Linked DNA regions of Homo sapiens: region 2 is linked to region 1. Evidence: fine-mapped expression QTL. A gene starts in region 1. The other region holds a variant in brackets. All regions are shown on one strand. Distances are from middle to middle.

Region 1 (5,379 bases):
AGCTGGGTGTTGTGGTGAGCTCCTGTAACATCAGCCATTCGGGAGGCTAAGGCAGGAGAATCGCTTGAACCTGAGGGGTGGAGGTTGCAGGGAGCCGAGATTGCGCCACTGCACTACAGCCTGGGTGACAGAGCGAGGACTCATCTCAAAAAAAAAAAAAAAAAAAAAAAAAAAAAAGATGGGGGATTTAAAACAGAAGCATGGGCCACCTGAAGATGAACACTTGATGTGCATATAAAAGGAGACACCTGCCAGAATTCACTCCTGCCTTCTTACGCCACAATGGGGAGGATTCTCCTCCTAGTACCAATGATACCACGAAGACTGGCAGGAAGAAGAGCACAGGTACCTCCTCTTCCACCACCCACGTATGTGGGAGAGGAAACTTTTGAACACCAAGGCAGGAAGAAGAACTTTTTCTTCTGGGAACCAAGACTTCACAGAGAGGTTGAGTTCCCTGTCATCCCAATTTCCTACTTGAAATTCAGGATACATTTTTCCCAGAAAGAAATATGATACAAAATTTTGCTATTTTTAAACGGATGATTCAGCCAATTTATGGATGAGAGGTGTTTTGTGTATGCATGTGTGCTTGTGTGTGTATATTAGCTGCTGAACATATTGTTGGTGCTATGGGAAAATGAATTGCAGATTGACTTTCAAGCTACAATCCATTTGCCAGCTGTGGACTCCGCACGCCTATGCAGAGAAAGTAAGAGCAGTAATGACAGTGGCAAAATGCACCAGACAAGTTGTGATTAGAACTCTTCCATAAAGAAGGGAGTCTGGGGCTACTTAAGAGCAATGCAGCTGACCACATAAAATGCAAATTGAAGCAAGCTCTAGGTGGCTGTTCAGGCCCTGCCTGGGCTAAGCCAGTTTACAGAAAGCTCCAGCAGCTATCCCAGGGCCTGGCTCCATCAGTGTTTGGGAAAGTGAACTAGATTTTCACACGTGTCTCCTGGTTAAATGAGACTTAGGAAACCATGCTGGTTTGAGGGGGTGCTGAGCTTGTGTGTATACGATAGGAGGGAAGGGACAACATGGATTAGCCTAGAAGGACAATAAAAGAGTTAGAAAGTCCTTGCACCTGTGTTCACAGACCAGCAATGCCTTCCTCTTAGGGGCAGAAGCTAATATGGAGATTAGATTGCCTTCACTAATTGTCAAGAATGTCAGTAAAGGGGACCAACTTAAGTAAATTAATGTTAGTCTCACAACCTATTGCATATTTAAGATTTGATTTGCTGGTTTGCAGCTGAAATAAGACGGCTTCCTTCCCTCTAATGCATCCCTTATGCAGATGGTCCTGGCTTCCAGCATCCTAAATACAATTCCAATAGTTTTCATTAGTAATCATCAAATCTAGCTGAATCTTCTTTCAAAGTGCCTCTTTTTGCCTTTCACTACTGACCTAACCTATCTCTAGCCTCTCCCAGTTCCAACCCACCTTGATTGCTGAGGGCAAATTTACTTTCTTAAAACAATGCTTGGATTAAGTTACGCCCCTTTGCAAGACCCTTTCACCTCCCCGCAAGTACCTGCAGAATAAAGTCCAAACCTCTAGCCCACCTTTTAAGGCCCTGTGGAGTCCTCACCTGTAAATCTCCCCCGCCCTCACCACTCCTGCACACAAGGCAACAAGGTCTCCTTGGCAGCTTCTGAGTAAGGTTGTCCTTATTTCTGCCACAGTGCTTTGTCCACACCTCCTTGAATTCCTCAATTCCTCCCTCTGTCTTAAAAGAACATTTCTGAGTCTGTCTGCTCCATGAAGTATAAGTCCGAGCTCATTTTTGCCCATGCCCTGCTCACTCCTCTCCATTCCTTGCAGTGAATTGTGCTAAGCATCTCTGGCTTCCTTGTGAAAAAGGTGATGCCGTTCTCCATCAGGGTGCTGTGTACCCACTATGTGTGAGCGGTACAGAATGAATGAACATCCCAGGGCCCTAGAAAGGCGCCTGGCACATCCTGGACACTCAACAAGTATCTTTTAATTTTAATGAATAAATTCAAGATATTCGACTGTATTCATTTTCCACCCACTTTCCCCCTAGGCCAGGGACTCTCCTCCCAGGTGAGAAAAAATCATCTAGATACCTTAATTTTGATAAAGTTAGCGTTGATGTATAAAAAGCAGAACTTCCTCTGTAACCCTGTGAGAAATGAGAAGCCTCCAATCTTCTTCCCCACACCTACCCCCTACTGAGTTTCGGGTTCCTTGGAAATAACTGACCTGGATTGTTTCTGACAAAATAAAACTTTGCATCTTCTCCACAGAGCAAAGGTAACCTTACCTCCAGCCAACCCAATCATCCATACATTTTTCTTACTAGAAAAAATGTTTTTAAAAATGGAGGTGTGGCCGGGCGCGGTGGCTCACGCCTGTAATCCCAGCACTTTGGGAGGCCGAGGTGGGCGGATCATAAGGTCAGGAGTTCGAGACCAGCCTGGCTAAATGTTGACACCCCGTCTCTACTAAAAATTAGCCGGGCGTGGTGGCGCATACCTGTAATCCCAGCTACTTGGGAGGCTAAGGCAGGAGAATTGCTTGAACCCGGGAGGCGGAGGTTGCAGTGAGCAGAGATCGCGCCACTGCACTCCAGCCTGGGCGACAGAGCGAGACTCCCTCTCGGGAAAAAAACAACAACAACAACAACAAAAAAACCCCCAAACAAACAAAAAACGGAGGTGTGAGGGTAAAACGTCTACAGGCAAGAACAGCACAACAGGTGCTGAGCTGCAAAATCAACACACTAAACTCCCAAACAGACCTTCTCGACAAGCCAAAAGCTCTTTAGCTAACCTAATATTCTTTAGCTGTTGTTTCAGAGGCTTTTCGAGAACAAAACTGCCGCCCCGTCTTGGCCTTGCCGCTTTTCACCCATCACTCTACTGAGTGTGTGTCTGACTTGTTTATCTGGACGCAATCTTTGTCGCACCCAGTTATCTCGCTCAGCGACCGGGGCGACCACGTTTCCTTAAATCAGAGCCCCGTGGACTCCGCCGGAGAACTACATTACCCAGCGGCCTTCGCGCCCTTCGCAGGAAGGACGTCTGCGCACTAAGATACTCAGTTCCAAGTTTGGAGCTTTTAGCTGCCAGCCCTGGCCCATCATGTAGCTGCAGCACAGCCTTCCCTAACGTTGCAACTGGGGGAAAAATCACTTTCCAGTCTGTTTTGCAAGGTGTGCATTTCCATCTTGATTCCCTGAAAGTCCATCTGCTGCATCGGTCAAGAGAAACTCCACTTGCATGAAGATTGCACGCCTGCAGCTTGCATCTTTGTTGCAAAACTAGCTACAGAAGAGAAGCAAGGCAAAGTCTTTTGTGCTCCCCTCCCCCATCAAAGGAAAGGGGAAAATGTCTCAGTCGAAAGGTAAGAGGCTGTTTGCATTAGTTGCAAAAATGCAAAGGGTTGTGCATGCATTTATGAATGCATGGATGCAATTTTCGCCTGGCGAGTGCATTTTTAAGTTTGAGGTTTTCCACAGCTCAGTTGCATTTCCTGTTTAGTATGTGTCTTTTTTTGCAGACACAGAGAGTTCCTGTAAGGCAGGGCTTGCAGTTCAGCTGTGCATTGACGTTATTTGCATTCTTCTGCTAGGATTACTGAGCTCTTTTTGCCTTTTGCACAGTCAGGAGAGACAGAGCAGGTTGGTAGCGTCTAAATGTGCAAGGCTTTATATAATTGTAAAATTCTTTACTATGCACAGATATTGTAAGTAATTTTGTATGCAACAGGAATAGAAACTTTTAAAAACTCTATAGGTGAAGATGAAAGGTAAAACTTGAGTTAAACTACTAGGAAATTAATGTAATCTTATATTCTTTGGGGGAAATAGACCGTTGCGGTGCCAGTATTTAGCTAAATTTCCATTGATATCGCCTTGAACATTAGGTAACTTTTGATTTTTAAAGGAAGTAAAGGTGAAGGGTGAATAACAGCATATCACAAAAAAGCAGACGAGTCTTGCTCTTCTGAGATTTTGCACTTTACACCAATTGCTTATTGGCTCGCAAAATTTAGAAGCAGCAGTGAAGACCTAATGTTTTATGTCTGCCCATTTGGGGGATGCTTTGCATCTTGGGGGAAAATATTGGGGGTAAAACTGTACTTTTAAGCATTACAGTAGTGTGAAGGGACTGCACTGTTTCATTGACAAGCATAATGAAATATTTTAAGTGTGTAACTGCGTGTATTTAGTCAGCTGTAATAGGTTGGAAGTTCACGTTATGGTTGTTTTCTTTATGTTCTTTTATTTTCTTTTCTTAATTTTTGTTTTTAAACACAGTTGTATTTTGCAGGCTTAATGTCACCCTGGGAAGGGGATTTAAAAAATTCCTGATATGACATCAAAGAGCAGACTAGGTGCTGTCAGGTGCCCCTGGGACCCCAAGTCACTTGTTTCAGAACAATTGTTTCTTTACCATAGAGAAAGCATATGCCATATGAGAAGTATGGGATGATGAAGAGAGGTGTTAGATACTATTGAATTAGGCTACCCGGGGCACTCTTTGAGTAAGACATGGTGAAATTAAAGGGTCTAACAAGCTTTTTGCTACTTTTTTGGGAGGGAGTGTGGGGAGTTGTTGCACCGCTTTTTAATTCTACCTGATGGGAGTCATATATCTCAGCAGCCCAAGAAGGAAGTAGTAATCTCAAGCATTCAAAGTAGCACTCTGCTTTTCTTTGAGTATTAGGGGAGAATGGAAATCTGAAAAGTTAAGAGTGCTGAAGAACCTAGGAATTGACATATCAGGTGGAGATGTTCCTCAAGTGGGGAAAACCTAAAAATCTCCTTATTGAGTAGAGAAATAATAGTTCAGAAGAGGCAGTCCATGCTTTGATGTATTAAAGAGATGGCATTTAGTTACTTTGTATTTGGTAAACATTCGCTCATTCATTCAATTCAGTTTAATATATGTGTAATATATTGTGATATGCATGTATATACATATGTATGTGTGTATATATATGCATGTATATGTATGTATTGTGTGTGTATGTGTGCACATGATTTAGGGACACACAAAAATATTTAAAATGAAGTTTTTCCTTCGGGTTGGTGAAAACAAGAATGTAAGGAAATCATTATAATACAAGATAATAGGACAGGTATTGAAGAGAAATGGTGCTATTGGAGTTTAAAAATGGAAGTGATTTATCTATTTGGGGGATAGTCAGGAAGGTTTATGAAGAGGGTGGTGTTTACTGTGATCTTATCTTTGGACTTTAGGGTCTAAACTAAATCAGGCTCCTTTTTGCATATTTTTGGGCTCACTATGAACGTGGCTCCCTCTTAGTAGAGCCAGTTTTTGAGTTGAGAAGCCAAAGGAGATATTAGCACTGCACTCTTCCCTATGGATGTGTTTACAATG
Region 2 (5,379 bases), 86 kb after region 1:
ACATCACACATACCCGCTGTTATTATGGAGTTGGGTTTTCATATCTCCTGATGCTTCGATGGCAGAATTGCATCTTAATAAGTTTTGACCCTTGCAATGTGTACCCTGGGGAATGATTGACAATTTCAGCTCAAAGATAGAGATAACACAGTGAGGAGCTAGCTTGGAATTTAATTCTTACTAATCAGAAAGAACTGGTGGGTTGTGGGGGATGTGACAAGAGCCTTGGAGGAAAGTGACGTTGGCAACATAAAGTGAGAAATGGTAAAACAAGACAAACAAACAAACAAACAAACACAAAACAACTTTACATAGACATGTGGTAGACAAGGGCTACTTAACTGTGGCTGATTTCTCAGACACTTGTGAAACTTAAAAAAATATATGGATCCTGAAGCCTCACTCTATCAACTTAGCTGGTAACTACTGTCCCCAGTAGCTGAGAGACCTGGACAAAAGGGCATCAGCAGGGGACCCACCTGCATGGGTCCTTTTGGGGCAGTTTCACCCATAGGGATAGGATTGCAAGTGTGGCTTCAGTGACACAACTACAATGTGAGATTTTAAGACTTTTTAGCACTTAGAGACTCTGTATGGCACCCAGCACGCCTGGAAGCCACACACACACACCTGGAAGCCACACACACACACACACACACACACACACACACACGTGCACGCAGAGAGAGAGAGAAGGGACCACTGAGCCAATGTCTTTATTGGGTACAGGGCGTTATCCAGTTTCCTGCAGGGAGCTTTAATTGCTGGGTTTAAAGCAAGCAGGCACTAGTTCTAGGAGGTCACAGCGTGACTGAGAGGTGGTCACCTTACGTTTGTGGGCAAATGTCTGCATGGTCTGTTTAAAGGGAGTGGCAGGAAAGTAGGGAGGCCAGCCTGCTAGGCAGGAGAGATGTCTCTAAGTTTCATGTCTGGCCACTGGTTTGGAGCCAATCTGGTGGAGTGTGGTATTAGACACCGTGTTAAGAGTGACTGAGCCCTGCTTCTGATGTGAGATAGTTTAACTTAGGTTTAAAAATGGATACTGAGGCAATGTAAAATTATAAGCACTCACTACACTCAGTCCCAGAAATCCTGAGTCTATAGACCTGGAGAAGTTCCCATAGTCAGTGGGCACAAAGAGAGGTAGATTCAAGATTGATGAGATGTTTGAAAAATGTAATTCTAGTGTAAATAACACGAAAGAGGGAGAATGGAGCACGGAATTTGAAGAAATAAGATGCCATCCAGGGAACATTCTGCTTAACTCATATTTTAAAAATGTAAGCGTAAACATGGAAGGGACAAAAGGAAGTATTTATTGAGCACCTATATTATGCTACACCCTGCTAGGCTTCTTCACACACACTGTGTCAATCGAGTCTCTTAATGACCTGCGGAGATTGTACATCATCTCCAGTTTGCAGGTGTGGAAACTCAGTTTAAGATAAGAAACTTTCTCAACATTACGTCACTAAGTGGGACAGCTGGGATTTGAAATGATTCTTATTGATGCAGAGGTTTGTGCAATTTCCATTCCATTCTTGGTTGTTCATTTTGTTTGTTTGTTTTTTGAAGAGCTCTGTACAAATGTTCAAAACAGTTGAGAAAAGAATAACAAACATTCAGTCAACAAATATTTATGATGTGCAGGTGCTGGGCAAAATCATTGGCCATCATGGAACTTATATTCTAGTGGAGAAAGGTAGATAAACAAGTAATAAATAAATGCAGAAGTAAATAAATAAATACAAAAATAAAATAATTCTAGATTGTGAGAAAAGGTTTGCGGGAAATGAGTGGAAGATGGTCGTGGAGATCTATTGTAGAGAGAGTGGACATTTTTCAACTAAAATATCAAAGTTTCAGGGAAGCTGCTTTGAGCTCATATTGTGTTGCAGGCTGAGTGTAAGGTGCCAGAATGTGAAAGCAGGAATGTGTGGATAGTAATCCTTAGATTGTGTTCAGGAAGCTCTGGGAAGGTTCTATGAGGGAGGTTTTGAATTTGGAAGGTTGAGTTCTTGTCTGCAAGACAGCTAGAGCCCTCCAGGTAGAAGGAACAGTATGAGCAAAGGTAAGGTCTTAGGAGATTCATTCTGACTCTGAAATCAAACTGACTGCAGGTTTTAAAATGAGCTTTTCAGCTGGGCACAGTGGCTCACACCTGTAATCCCAGTAACAGCACTTTGGGAGGCTAAGGCGGGCGGATAACCTGAGGTCAGAAGTTTGAGATTAGCCTGGTCAACATGGCGAAACCCCATCTCTACTAAAAATACAAAAATTAGGCGGGTGGGGTGGCACGTGCCTGTATTCCCAGTCGCAGCTACTCGGGAGGCTGAGGGCCATGAGAATTGCTTGAACGTGGGAAGCAGAGGTTTCGGTGAGCCTAGATAGGACCACTGCACTCCAGCCTGGGTGACAAAGTGAGACTCTGTCTCAAAAAAAAAAAAAAAAAAAAAAAAAAAGGCCGGCCATGGTGGCTCACGCCTATAATCCCAGCACTTTGGGAGGCTGAGGCAGGTGGATCACGAGGTCAGGAGTTCAAGACCAGCCTGACCAACATGGTGAAACCCCATCTGTACTAAAAAATACAACAATTAGTTGGGCGTGATGGCGGGCACCTGTAATCCCAGCTACTCAGGAGGCTGAGGCAGGAGAATCACACAAAGCCGGGAGGCGGAGGTTGCAGTGAGCTGACATTGTGCCACTGTACTCCAGGCTGGGTGACAGAGCAAGATTCCATCTCAAAAAAAAAAGAAAAAAAAAAAGAGGTTTTCAGCTTTTCTTCTCTAAACTTTCTGTAATTCCAGAGAGATTTGTCTTCAGTGTTTGGAATCTCAGTGGTATATAAGAGCCAGTGGTTTTGGAAGATTGGAGGATGGCAGAGTCCCTGTTCACTTTTACATTGCTGTTGCAAAGCCAGCTTTCTTCCTGCATGCCTCTTCCCCTGCCCTGCTTCGTTCGTTGCTTTGCATATGATGATTGCAATTTAATAACACTGAATGATACTTCACTGCTGGTTTTATTGCCAACTACCCTTGGAACGTAAGCCTAGATGCAAGTAGTAAGGAGAGGGCAGCCAAGGCCTCTAGATTGCCAGTTACTTGGCTGGAAATCCCATTCATATTGGGAAACAGATTTTTAAAATAAATTTGGCACTGGAAACACTGCCATCCTTTTGTGAAGCTGTGTCAATAATCATAAACTCTCATAGTC[G/A]TGCCCCCAACCCTCGGCCAAGCTAACAAATATTTAGGCATCAGCATATCTTCACGATGCCACCTTCTGTTGACCGCGTGGGCTTCTCATGCTGTTTGGGTTGGCAGTGGAACATAATCTTCTGTTTTATGTAATGAGGAACATCAGAGGAGTGCTTTGTGCTTACCCTCTCAGAGTGTGTGCAAGACCTCTCGTGTACCCCATCATTTTCGGTGCAGTCAAAGCTAGCGAACATTTCTGTGGCCTGGTAAATATTTTCTAACTATTGGCAAGGCTTTTTAAATTTTTTTTTCCAGTGCCATTTTGCTCCAGGCCAGGATTATAATGACCCAGCTTTGCTTTGGTTTCAGATGAATTTTGCAAATATATGTGTGTGGTGGGATTACACTATTTTCAGAGAACACAGTCATGCGGGTAACAGGGTCTGATGCAATATAGTGCTGCATATGCCCAATCAGGCCGACGAGGCTTACCCTTTGCAGACTGTGCCAATAAGCAGTCGAGGCTTGTTGCGATCTGCAGAAATCTACAGAATTCTCTGTTTCCGAGAAGGCTTGTTGCTAGCATATGACATCATAGAAAGCCTTTTTTTTTTTCTGACATTTTTTCTGCTTTGCTTTAGAATATCAAAGGCAAAGACTGTTGAACATAGTTGGCCACTTAGCTTTATTATTCATAGTGCTCCCTCCCATGTTTTTTTTTTTTTTTTTTTAACAGTGTTCAATGTTAGCGTCAGGTGTTGGCTGCCTTCCTGGGGGAACAGATTGCTGTGAAGTAAACACAGCTGGAAACTGACCACATATTGTTTTTCTTTCTTTTAAGAAATCAAAGAGGCATTTATAGAAAAGCTGCAGAACATGGTACTGTCCAGATTTATAGATTTATTCCTCCAAGTCTGGTTAATGATTAATGTCACGCCTGGGTGTCCACATAGACCCACTTCCCTTCTCCCTTCCTGAAGCTGCAATTTCCTCGGAACAATGAGCTTGCAGAGGTTTGCTGCAATCCGAACTTGAGGAGGGGGTGGAGTCTGTTCAGTTCTGTTTCTCCTTGCCGAAGTGTGGTCTTTGGAGCTAAGTGAAGAATGACTTCTGTTAGGTTTTCCTCTGCTGGTCTTCCTTGCAGCCTCGAAAACCTCACCAGAGTCGCCTCTGCTGGTCTCTTACTGTGCTGCTCTGTCAGAGATGGGCAAGTAAGCGAACTGCAGAGTGTTGCTGTGTGTGCTTGTGATTTGTATTTTATTTGATGTAAACGTGAAGGCAGAGTATTTTCTAACACTGTAATTCAACTAGGTTTTGTGTCTCCTGGATCTATTTTTTTTTCTTGTTGTTCTGAGGAGCTGATATACTTGGAAATATTAGGTTTAAGATATGCAGATGTCCAACTTATATACATAGTCAAGGGTTTAGAGTCTGGAGACAGGAGGCTGGCAATTTCAACTAGGAGGCAGTAAATTCAGGGTAAGAATGATGTTGATGTGGGGGGCTGTGGGGGTGGCTGGGTGTAACAGTGATCTGGGGAGAGAATCAAAGGCCTTCTCCTCCCACTTGGAAGACTTTACTATTATTTTGGTCTTTTATTCCTTTGGTCTCTGTGCTAAAAACTTTCTCTCTTTTTTACTGTTTCTTTGTATAGATGTTTTGGTGATTTAAGTTATGGTGTAATAATTAATTGCTGTTAAGAATTGCTACTAATTACTTGCTATATTAAAGTTTTCCAAAGGGGTTTTCTCAATAAATAGCTATTTCTCTTTACATCTATCTTGTAAGAACTGAGTTAGAGGTAAAGAAGAGAAAGATGTAGGAATTTAAGAGTAACTTCTGCTTTTGGTTTGCTTAAATGACAACTGGAGACCAGTTTTCATAGGCAAAATATATGTTACTTTAGTTTTTGTTTTCGTTGAGAGAACTGTAGGGTCGCCTTTTGGGATTACCTGAATTATCTGTCACCTGCACTGGAATTTGTATGTAGTTATCTGTATAGTTATCTAAACAAGTTGAATCCGTCATTCATTCCTCACTGAAGAATCTCATCGAAAGTAACATTCCCTGTCTGTTTGGCTGAGGTGCATGGATGGGAATTGTTGGAATTAGGCCATATATCTATTTGGATTCTCATAACTGGGTCCAGCACCTAGCATAGTTCCTGGTACATAGGAAAGCTCTA

Direction of the effects. Positions count from the first base shown, and alleles are read on the strand shown. Sizes are in standard deviations (SD) of each study's normalised expression.
In carriers of allele A in region 2, the expression in skeletal muscle of the gene that starts at base 3,073 in region 1 tends to be higher than with G alone (moderate effect, 0.45 SD a copy in GTEx).

The links.
Region 2: its variant is fine-mapped to the expression of MAP2K6 in skeletal muscle (GTEx, PIP above 0.99).

The regions. Positions count from the first base shown.
Region 1 is chr17:69,411,625-69,417,003 of GRCh38, forward strand. MAP2K6 (mitogen-activated protein kinase kinase 6) reads left to right here and starts at 3,073. Exons shown (of 12, transcript NM_002758.4): 1 at 3,073-3,376. The coding sequence starts at 3,361.
Region 2 is chr17:69,498,013-69,503,391 of GRCh38, forward strand. The region is part of intron 1 of MAP2K6 (mitogen-activated protein kinase kinase 6); the gene reads left to right. Among named protein-coding and RNA genes, the nearest start is that of MAP2K6-AS1, 15 kb to the left of the region's middle. The variant G/A (reference allele first, on the strand shown) is at 3,214.